Regions from separate parts of the Homo sapiens genome. Here region 1 is linked to region 2. The links come from fine-mapping of genetic effects on gene expression. A gene starts in region 2. The other region holds a variant in brackets. All regions are shown on one strand. Distances are between the middles of the regions. Region 1 overlaps GRIN2B (glutamate ionotropic receptor NMDA type subunit 2B). Region 2 holds the start of GRIN2B (glutamate ionotropic receptor NMDA type subunit 2B).

Region 1 (5,379 bases), 31 kb after region 2:
CATGCATCCCTGGAGTCACTTCCCAGATGCTTGGGTCTTCTCAACTGAGGCTCCAAAAGTCATGGAAATGAATCAAACAATCACAGCTGTGCCCTACCCAAACTCCTAACCCTCAGAATTTGTGAGCGTAATACACTGGTTGTTATTTTATGCTACCAAGTTTTGGGGTGGTTTGTTATGCAGCCCTACAGAACTGGAATGCCAATGACCAGCATGTTTATTTAGTACATAATTATATGTGTATACTGTCTAATATGTTGTGTTCATTATAAAGCACGCAAAAAAACAGAAATTAAAAGTGGGTGAGATAAAAATAAATATAAATAGAAGTTCTAACATTTTATTTTCATGCCCAGCTCCTGGGGGATTGGAAACCTCATGCTATTATATACCTTAAATACATGGCCAGAAGAAGACAGACTTTGATATTCAGGATCTTTTAAATAGTTTTCAACAATCTATGAAAAAGAAAGACGGGGGCAAGTGATAGAGAGGGGAAGTACAGATAGGGAGGTTCTCACCGGAGGAATGCAGGAAGGAGAGAGGAAACACAGGAGGAGAGGTTCCATGGGATAGAACACAGGGCTCCTAAACAGGGTGGAGATTTTCCTGAAGCAGTATTAGGCTTTCAGAGTATTTTAGTTTCATTTCTGTAATGCCATTCAGGAGGACCGTTGCTAACTATATCCTAATTTGTGGATTCCTGCGGACACTGTATAAAGGTGAGTGGGTAAGATGAGTTACAGTTTCATTAACACAACGGGGACTGTTATTGAGAACTGATTCTAGAATCGAGTGCTTCAGAGATCTGAATATTTTTAGAAAGAGAATTGGGTTGAGTCTTTTTTCTAATATCTCTCACTTCCTTTACGGAAGCTCTAACACATTCCGTGTGGGCACCTGACATGCACATATAGACACATCCTTAAGGTCCTTATATACATTTTTATTTTTATATCACCATATACACGTTGACTTCTTTCTTCACACCCCCAACCAAAAAAAAACCCAATAAAAATCTTTAATAATTTTCTCTCTTACTGCTATATATACACAGATCCACTTTTGATATATCAATTGTGCTTAGGTATAAGACCTGTACAGATAAATGTATTAATCTATTGCAAGCAATTAATAAGGATAGCTTTCTTTTTCTTTCTTTTTCTCCCCTCTTCTCTTTCTTATTACCAATAAAGTCTATTTATCCCCTTCTTCCTGTGAATTCCCTTACAGAAGCCACACAGGTTAACCAGCTATATAGTATGGTGGCCATTTGCTATTAGGGCTGTGGTTTCACAGATAAATTAGACCTTGTCTCCACTCTTGAGAAGCTCACAGTCTAGAGAGAGAGATGAACAGATAAATTGGTAATCATATTTTGTGTGGTGAGTGCTGTGATGGAAGCAAATACAGTGTGTGTGGGAGCCTGTGGTATGGACGCTAAGTGTCCATGAAGTCTTCCTAGATTTTTGACAAATGGGTGCAATTATACAGCTCTACCAACCATGAATTGCATGTGCTTGGCTTTTGGATGCAGTAAGCTTTCTACAAACAGACTGGATCATTTGACTTGAATATCCTGTTAACAAGACAAGCTAATTTGCCCGAGGGGACTTCTTCACCCTTACATTTAGGCTAAATGGTTTTTACGTTGGATTTTCTTATTCAGGCTGCAGGGTTCCTATCCTTCCCTGGAATGAATGCTCTCTAGCTTGTCTACCAGGCAGAGACTGCTCAGGGATCACTCTGGGTTTTTTCAGTGTTTCTATTTCATTTCTGGCCTCAGTCAGTCTGCATACAGGAGGTTCCCTGTACTATATCTAGGGTTGTCAGATTTAGTGAATTAGAACACTCAATTAAATTTGAATTTCAAATAAACAATAATTTTTTAGTAGAAGTATGTTTCAAATATTGTAATATTTGCATACTTATACTAAAAGTATTTGATATTTATCATTGAAGTTCAAATTCAATTGGGTGTCCTGTATTTTATCTGGCAGGCCATATCACTACTCTCTCTTGGCCTTGCTCTTCTTGGAATGTTCACAAGGGAGTGGGAGGTGTAAGAAATTTTTATCTCTAGAAGCACCACTTCTGGATTGGAGATTTTGTCCTTCATTTTTCTCTTCCCTGGTCAAACTTAGCTTTTTTCTATGTTGTAGGTGGCTAGGCCTGTCATTCCATGTTGAATTTATTTCTGATAGGGATTCTGGAGGTATTAAAATTCTGGCCCTTGGTTGAACTGCTTTACCAAAGTAATATTTTACCTAAAACTTATTTTTCTCCATAAGCTTGAAGTGGAAACTCTTTTTAAGGAATTGTGCCCAAAGCATGAGTCAGAGGCATGAGAGTAGGCTCAGAGAGCAAAGGGCATTTACTGTCGTGCAGGAATCTGAGGCATCTCAGCACTCCTTT[T/C]GTTTATTTCTTCATTGTTCATTGTGATCTGGCAAATGAGAAACCTAGGCCAGTAATTTTTAGATAGGCAAGGAGTCAAATATAAGAAACAATAATAGCAAGAATTTATTGAGCACATCCTAGCAAGCTAAATGCTTTTCCATGTATGTTCTCACTTAATCCTCATAATAATTTAATGAGATAAGTACTCTTATCATCCTTATTTTCCAAATAAGGAATAAACTTAAAGAGATGAAATAACTTGCCTTAGGTTGTGTAGCCCATAAGTGACCAAACTGGGATTTGAAGGCATGTAAATCTGACTACAGAGCTCCCACTTACAACCCCAATGCTACAGTCCTTTGGGGCTGAGCCTGGGCTGGGGTCTCAGTAAACACTCTTGGGTTGATTCATCTACTCTGTTTAAATGATTTCCAACAAGGAAGAATACTTTATAACCTCTTTTGTAACTTCTAGTGTGTGGTCCCCTATTTTGACTGGCTATTCTTCCATAGATTAATACGATGATTTTCCCTCTGCGTATAAAACCATTCCTTAGCCTCAGTAGAAATAGCAAATTGATCAATATCTTCCCCTTAAAGTGGTAACTTTTCTTTTTCCTCTGGTTGTCTCTTATTTTTTCTTCTTAGGTTCTGTAATCGACATCATGATCAAAGGTAATTTAAGTGCCTGTTCTATAATGTTTACTACTTTTTGTTGCTCTCTTTTGAGTTCCTCCTTAATGAATTTAGTATATTTTGGAGAATCACAGTGCTTACGTGCATAAAGTTCATAATAAACATAAATTTGATTGGTTTGGTTCTTGCAGGCTTCTGTACTGCAAACACAGTACAGCCTGGTACATATCTAAAAGTGAGTATTTTGCTGATTCCCTTTAGGCTGTATCCATCTCTGTCTCATGGCCCATCAATATACACTACATTGAATGCAACTTCTTGGCATCGTGGTTTGTGATCTTCCTCTGTAATACTAGAACATGTATGTAAATGAAATCGTTTGTTAACGATGCTATGTCCACCACATGGTACCTGACACCCTCCTGTAGAGGCTAATGGCAGTGTAGATGTTATATTGATCATGAGGCCATAGAGTCCCTCACAGTTGAAGCACCTTATGTCGGTGGCTTTGAGCTGATTGCCGAATGCCACGGCAGCTTCCACACTTAAAGGATTCCAGGAGGCCCTGTGGTCCCTCTGGTTGAGTGTTCAGATTAAGGGTCCTGGAAACCTGTAGCAACCCTGGAGAGAAGAGGCAGGAAGAGGGAGAGGAAAGTTTCTGCCTTTGATCTCAGAGGGTCTGGAGGATGTGGGAGGGCCTAGGAGTTGGAAAGATTGGAAACTCTGTTTGAGACGTCTCTGTAGCAACCAGAATCTTCTGAGATTTCTCTAATAACTCTCTTACCTAGCTGAGGTTTGCTTGCTGTCCAGGCTGAAATGCAAACCAGCATCTCCCTTCTCCCCTCATTTCTGTCCAGGAACTATGGGTTCTTCAGGCAGTGGATTCAGCCCTGATTTGGATCTCTGGGCACTCTTAGGGTTGAAGCAATGGTCCCTCCAAAGTCCGGCAACCACACAGATAATTCTGCTATCACCTGCTGCAGGGACTAATAGCCTGCCCCTGCTGAGGACTTGTGATACAGGGAAAGTAGTAGAACCTCTGGGAACACTCTCTTAAGACTGCTTTCCCTCCTTTCCCAAGAACTTAGTTCTTTCAGAGAAAAAGCGGTCTGCAGTAGTCTGGTGAGTTTGTGGTTCCTGGGTTTTCTGAGTGGCTGCCCATCAGTTTAGAGGGACCACAATGCCAGTGACTCTAAATGGCCCATCTGTCCATGGAATTCCCATTAGTCACCAGTTACCTTCCTTACATTCCGGGTGTCGCAGCACCACAACTTTTGAGTCTTTACTCAAAAGTAAATCAAGACACACCATCCTTGGCATGCTGATGAGATTAATGTAACCTACATTTAGGGGAATTTCAGAAATTTTGTAATTAGAGGTACCGTTGCTCCTTGCAGAATCCAGGTCTCTTCTCTTCAGAAATGTGGCTTTTGAGTGAATAGTCTTTGTTAAGTCACCAGTGTTGGCTCTGCCACCACCAACCGTGTTGAAATCTTTGGCATCAGAGCAGAACCGGATGACTCTGGCAAAAATGAATTTGAGAGGATATATATAAAAAAATCTAAGACCCAAATCTGTGAGACTGTGCTTTATCTCTAGCAAAGAAAAATAGGACTTCCTTGCTATTTACAGTGCTCTTTCAGCAAGGAACACATCTCAGCATCTTTAGTCCCCCCAGAGGGCTAACAAAGGTTTGTTGTTCTTTCATCGCAGCCCATTTTTGAATTTAGCATTTAAACATATGGGGCAGGGTTGGATTGATCCTTATGAAAAGAAAGCATTTACCCCAAGGATCCCCCCTGGCAGAGACTTTCTTTAGGCTTTTTCTGTGAGGCAATGTGGTTATATTTGCCCCAGAACCTTCTTTCTTGTAGCTATTAGACAACAAGTTGACATTTTGTATCATATTTATGCATGTGCTACTTTTAGATACCATCTTATCCTTCCCCAATGGCACTTCTACAATTAACTGCAACATTGTTGGGTTTTGAGTGAGTAAATACCATACTTTCAGGGCCTAGGTGGCCATATGGTCACCTTTGCCATTGTTTTCTTATGGAGAGGTCCTGAGGAGAGTGAAAGAACAATTTCAGTTTAAAAATGGGGGGCTGCTTCTCTGGTTCTGGGACAGGACAGTAAACCCAGAGGGTAGTAGGTTAAAGCCTACAGCGTGGTTTAACGTTATGGAAGTGAGTTGGAGAACAACTCATGCCTCATCCTCAGCTTTGCACTGTGTGTCAGTGATGGTTGCCATGGTGATAGCTTCGTGTCATCACTGGAAGATTTGGACTGCAGCTGGAAAATGAGCCACAGCCAAAGGTGGGGTCCTATCAGATCAACAGCCACT
Region 2 (5,379 bases):
ATTAGGTGGAGGAAGTATGAGCGTTCATTCTTCCCTGTACACTTGGAAAAGTGAACAGGGTGGAATGGAATTGCAACAGGGTTCAGGTAGGGAGGAAAAGGAAAGAAAATAGGGAAGAATAGTATAATTTTGGTGAAGGGACTGAGGATAGGAAGGGGAACGTGGGCTATGAGCCAGAAATAAAAAATATAAAAATTTAAAAAGTAGATTCAAGGTCAACCCATGAAGATCCTTGAGTGAGCTTGGATGTTATTCTGAAGCTAATGGACCAGGTAACGGTAATTTTCCTGGAAAATTCAGGGAAGAGTGTTTCAGGAAATCTCTATTAGGTTCTTGCTTTCTGCATTCTATACTCCTCTTGGAATCGGCGTTCTAACAACTGCAAACCTGCCCATAGGCAGGTGAACTTGAAAACCCTGGAGACAAATTATTAGAGGGGCTTGGGTTGGCTGTTGTGTATCAAGAGGGCACAGCAACTCTGGGGTGCTTCGACACTTCCCCAAAGTAGTGAAAGATCAGTTCTAACTCTTAGAAAAATAGAAAACCATTACTGAGAAGGAATAATTTGCATGTGAACACACTCTATTTGTGTTTTCACACAATGCTTATGTGTTCGTGTGTGTTAAATATGTTAGATTCAAAAATTAAGCCTGAGAAAAACCAGGAAACAGAAGAATTACTGTAGCTCAGAAGTATGAGTAGTCTGGTCTACAGGACAGCAAAAACATATCTGATGGCTTCTACAGACTAAAGTTCCAAGCCACTAGGTATATCCACTCACACAGCCTTCTCTCCTGTGCGTTTGTATGGCCGCTTCTCAGGAATGCTGGTGAGAAGCCCATGATATAACCAATATGAAAATGTTCCACCACTGTAGTATTCTAGATATTTGAAAAGACAATGGATGAGAATGAAAATGATGCATATACAATAATATTAATGTTAAAAGTAAACAATACTACAGGTGGTGATAAGGGCTATTAAAATATAAAAGAGTTCAATAGGAAGAGAAATGAATGGATGTTTGCCTTTTCAAAGAGGGTGGGTTTGTAAATGCCAGGAAATCCAGTTTCCTTTAGGGATTATTCACGGGCCTCACCATCTTCTCTTCTCAAGGCATTTAAATAACAGGATCCACTTTAATAAAAAATGTCAAACTCCTCCCGCCTTCACTAGCAGCCAGAAAAGCACGCGTATGGTCCATACTATACAATTTAGCCACGAATGACACCTGCTTTGCTTTGTTTTCTATTGTGTTAGGCGTCAGCCTCGTGTGCTCAGATAGATCTTAAGCTCCTTGAAGGCAAGAAAGAACCCGGTCCCAGACTGCGTCCGACACACAGAATGCTCGTAGGAAGCACAGGCTGATTTATGGAAAATACAGCAAGGGTCTTCAATTTCGAACTACAGCTCCGCCTTGGAGATGCTTTCCGCAGCCCGCGGGCCGCCCACGGGGGGCACTGTCTAGCTCCCCTCGCCCCTCAGCCGCTCTCCGTCGGTGCTGTTCCCCGCTGCGGCCGGGAGGAGGCGCCACGGACTCGGGCTAAGCTTCTTCCCCCTTCCGTCCCCCTTCCATCCACCTTACCACCCCACTTCCCCAGCACATGACGTGGGAAGCTGCCTCCGCCAGAGTCTTAGCAAGAGGAGTGAGGGGGTGCAGGGGCTTGGGGGTGGGGTGGGGTGGGGGGTGTGGAGAAAGAGGACACGCGCGCTCACACCCGCCCCTGGGAGCAGAAGCAGTATCTTCCCCAGCTTCGTGGGTTTCTCCTCCCCCCGGAGTCAGGGTGTGCGAGGTAGGGGGTGTGTGTGTGTCTGTGTGTGTGTGCGCGGCACGTTTTTGAGTGTGAGACCCAAATCCAGACCAGGCAACCTGCGTTCCCCGCGCCTCCCCCCGTCCCCGGTGATTAATACCCATTTTTCTGACGCTCCCCTCCTCCCCTCCTGCTCTCCCTCTCCGGCTGCCGCGCGGTTGACTTGCACAGCCTGCCCCCGCCCGCTTCCCTTCCCCCGGCTCCGATCCTCACCAACTGGAATCTGGGCTCCTGCCTCTCCACCCCCCACCTCTTTTTGAGAAAGGAAGGTTCCCCCCACCCCCTTTCAAAAACCACTTCCTCCGGCTTCTTCACCTCTAGGAAATCTCGGGGCTTCGCTCTATCGAGAGTGCTCGTCAAGGGTGATTCTTGATCACCACCATCCAGTAGTGCTGGCGTCCGAATGCATATCCTTTTGCCTTGCAAAGAAGAGTCATGAACTTCAAAACCCCCGAGACGGATCATTAATCCTGCTTTGCAGGAAAGGAAAACCCTCCATTCCCAGCCACCGGCCACCCCTCTCCGCAGACTGCAACCGCGGAGGCGCTCGGAGCCGGTACGTAAAGATGGGCTTTGGAGTCTCTCCTTTGAATGTAGGGGTTTGGGGGTGTCAGGCAGATAAAGGGTCGAAGCCGTGAAATCGTGAACGAATCTGGCATGAGGTAAAGCTCTGAAATCCAGCAGAACCCGGCACTTGCTAATTTGGACGTGGCTTTTTTAAAGGTTTTTTTTTTTTGTGGGGGAGGGGGTGCTGTGACTGGGTAGGGCTGTCTCTGGTCTTTTGGGGGGTTTCATCCCTTCACCTAGCAGAGGGGCAGGGCAGCGGCGCCCCGGGCCGGACCCACGCGCCGAGCCCATCCGTCCAATCGACACGTTGCAGGTGAAGCCCCGTGCGCTGCACCTCAGCGCGGCGGCAGCGTGAGTGTGCGCGGGGGTGAGTGTGCGCGGGGGTGAGTGTGAGTGCGCGCGGGGCGCGTGCGCGTCGGGGGCGTGTGTGCGCGCGTCAGTGTGCCCCTTCCAAGAAATGCCCAGTGTGCACCCCGTGCACAATCAGAACCCATTCAGCACAAGCCCGGGGTGGGAGGCGGCGCTGCTGCTGGAGGCGATGGGGAGAGCGAGCGAGACAAGTCAGCAGCAATGCAGATGGGGCTGGGGGCCGCACTCGCTGGCGAGTTAAGTGGGAATTGTGTTTCTGCGTGTGTGTGAGTGTGTGTTGCTGTATGGTGCCGCTTCTCCCCCCCTTCCTCCTTCCTTCCCACTTCCCTCCTTCGCTCGCTCCCTCCCTCTCTCCTCTTCCATTCAGGTTGGCTTTCCCACCTCTCATCCGTGCCTGTCCCAGGAATGGTATAGCCAGACCTTTTCTGAATTATTTATAGACCGGTACCAGCTGTTTTCAATTCCTCTCGTGTGCACTCTGTGGGAAATGCGGGGTTTCCTCCCCCCTTTCCTTAAAACGAATTGATATCTTTTTCGGAATGCATTTTTCTCACCCTCCGGGGGACACGCGAATCAAGCCCTGACCGCCTCTTTTTCCCCCTTAGGAAGGGGACGCTTTGGGAATGACCATGCTCCACCGAGGGACGGAGCCGGCCCCCAGCTTCTCCACACAGAGCCTCCTCCACTAACGCTCCAAAAACCAAAAACCGTAATTGCCAGAAGAAGCGTTAAAAATCTATTCCAGCCACTAACCTCACATGCACACGGAATAATTACTCTGGATTCTGCATTGTGAGCTGCTCTCCATACCCTGAATTACCTTTGAATTAAATCTTTTTTTTTTTGAATTTGCATCTCTTCAAGACACAAGATTAAAACAAAATTTACGCTAAATTGGATTTTAAATTATCTTCCGTTCATTTATCCTTCGTCTTTCTTATGTGGATATGCAAGCGAGAAGAAGGGACTGGACATTCCCAACATGCTCACTCCCTTAATCTGTCCGTCTAGAGGTTTGGCTTCTACAAACCAAGGTAGGGCAAATTCTATTTTATTTTTTCCTCACCTGGGGTAGGGATTCCTCATTTTATCTATCTCTTCGAGTCCCTCAAGTGGATCTTTTTGGAAGAAAAGGTCACAAGATATGAAAATAATGCTGTTTTGGGAAAAAAGGCTTATTACAAAGAAGGAAATCTCCCATGTTTTTTCTTTTTCTTCTCTCATCTAACAGGTTTTGGGCTTTTGGGGGGCAGTGGGGGTGGATGTATGCAGGCACAAAAGATGTTGGATGGCATCAGGGGAATGTATCTATATCTATAGACATAGCCAGCCAGGAGACCTGTGTGATTTTCCAGTTAAATAGCATTTTATTCACCCAGAACTAAAGCTCCGATTTTTATGGGAATCTAGAAATCCTTTTTTTTTTTTTTTTTCAGGTTGGCTTTATTCCCCTTGTCACCTTCATGCCTCTCTCCCTGTCTCCTGTCTTTACCTTTCTAGGCATCCTTTCTATGCCCTTTAAAACAGATAAAAATAATGATTGAGATTACTGTGATTGTTGCCCTGAAATCCACTTGCTGTCTAAAGGGTTGACAAGGGGCCCAGAGATCCCGGGAGGCCTATTGCAGAGGGGTAGGTCTAGGTGGGGATCGGGCTGGTCTCAGAACACCTGGAATTGAAGGATGCTGCAGGTTAAACGACTTAAATCTTAAGCTCGGAAAGGAGGAATTCTGTCAATATTCTGCTTTTAATTTGTATTTTTTCCTGTGCTATTATTTTTGAGCTGTAAATTTCTCCTTCTGTCTACATATCTATTTATACCCACACATCCTCCAAGCAAACTGTTACTTCTACACTCTTGCAAAATGGCTATCTTGCAGAGTTCTAAAATGCTGTGCATGTGGAAGGGGTGCAGAATTCGACACGTGAGTCTTTGTGTTAAACAAAGAGATGTGCTGTTTGCATGTATTAGTCTTGTACCCTCAAAAATGGAATTAATACTTTAACATTTTCCCTTTCATCAATTTTTACAATATGTGAAATGTGATTAGGCAGTATTTTAATGTACTTGAGAAGAGAAATAGCAGGAGAAATGGAAAAGACTTAGCTAATGACTCTTCAGCTAGTCACTCATGCAATCCAAGACAACTCTTGAGAGAATCAGATCATTCATGGGTTGGAGGGCCATGATGGTGAGTGGGCTGCTCCTTTCCTTGCTCCACTGACCATATGTCCCTGAACTCTGAAGGCGTCTAAATGCAGGGATCAGGTTGGGATAAAGATCTCCAAAAACATGTAGCAGAATCATTAGCATCATTATTTTTCCTAAAAGTATTACCACCACCCCAACACACACACAATTTTTTTTTCTGGCATTTTAAAACAACAATTCTTTGATAATCCAAAATACCAAAGGGATGTGGGGAAGAGGTGAAAGATCTTTGTCGCTCAACATGACAGTAGATGATAGTTCTTCATTGTCCAGAAAGGATAGATGTAATCCAAATTCACTATCCCCCTTCTCTAGGTTTCATTCTTTTGAGTTTTACTGCTGAAATGCTACTTTGTAACCATGGTGTAATCAGAGTGAGAGGGTGGGATCCCACTTTGAACCATGTTCTCACCACGTCTA

Evidence for each region.
Region 1: its variant is fine-mapped to the expression of GRIN2B in tibial nerve (GTEx, PIP above 0.99).

The regions. Positions count from the first base shown.
Region 1 is chr12:13,947,692-13,953,070 of GRCh38, reverse strand. The region is part of intron 2 of GRIN2B (glutamate ionotropic receptor NMDA type subunit 2B); the gene reads left to right. Among named protein-coding and RNA genes, the nearest start is that of GRIN2B, 31 kb to the left of the region's middle. The variant T/C (reference allele first, on the strand shown) is at 2,416.
Region 2 is chr12:13,978,330-13,983,708 of GRCh38, reverse strand. It overlaps GRIN2B (glutamate ionotropic receptor NMDA type subunit 2B), which reads left to right and starts at 2,107. Exons shown (of 14, transcript NM_000834.5): 1 at 2,107-2,367; 2 at 3,353-3,781.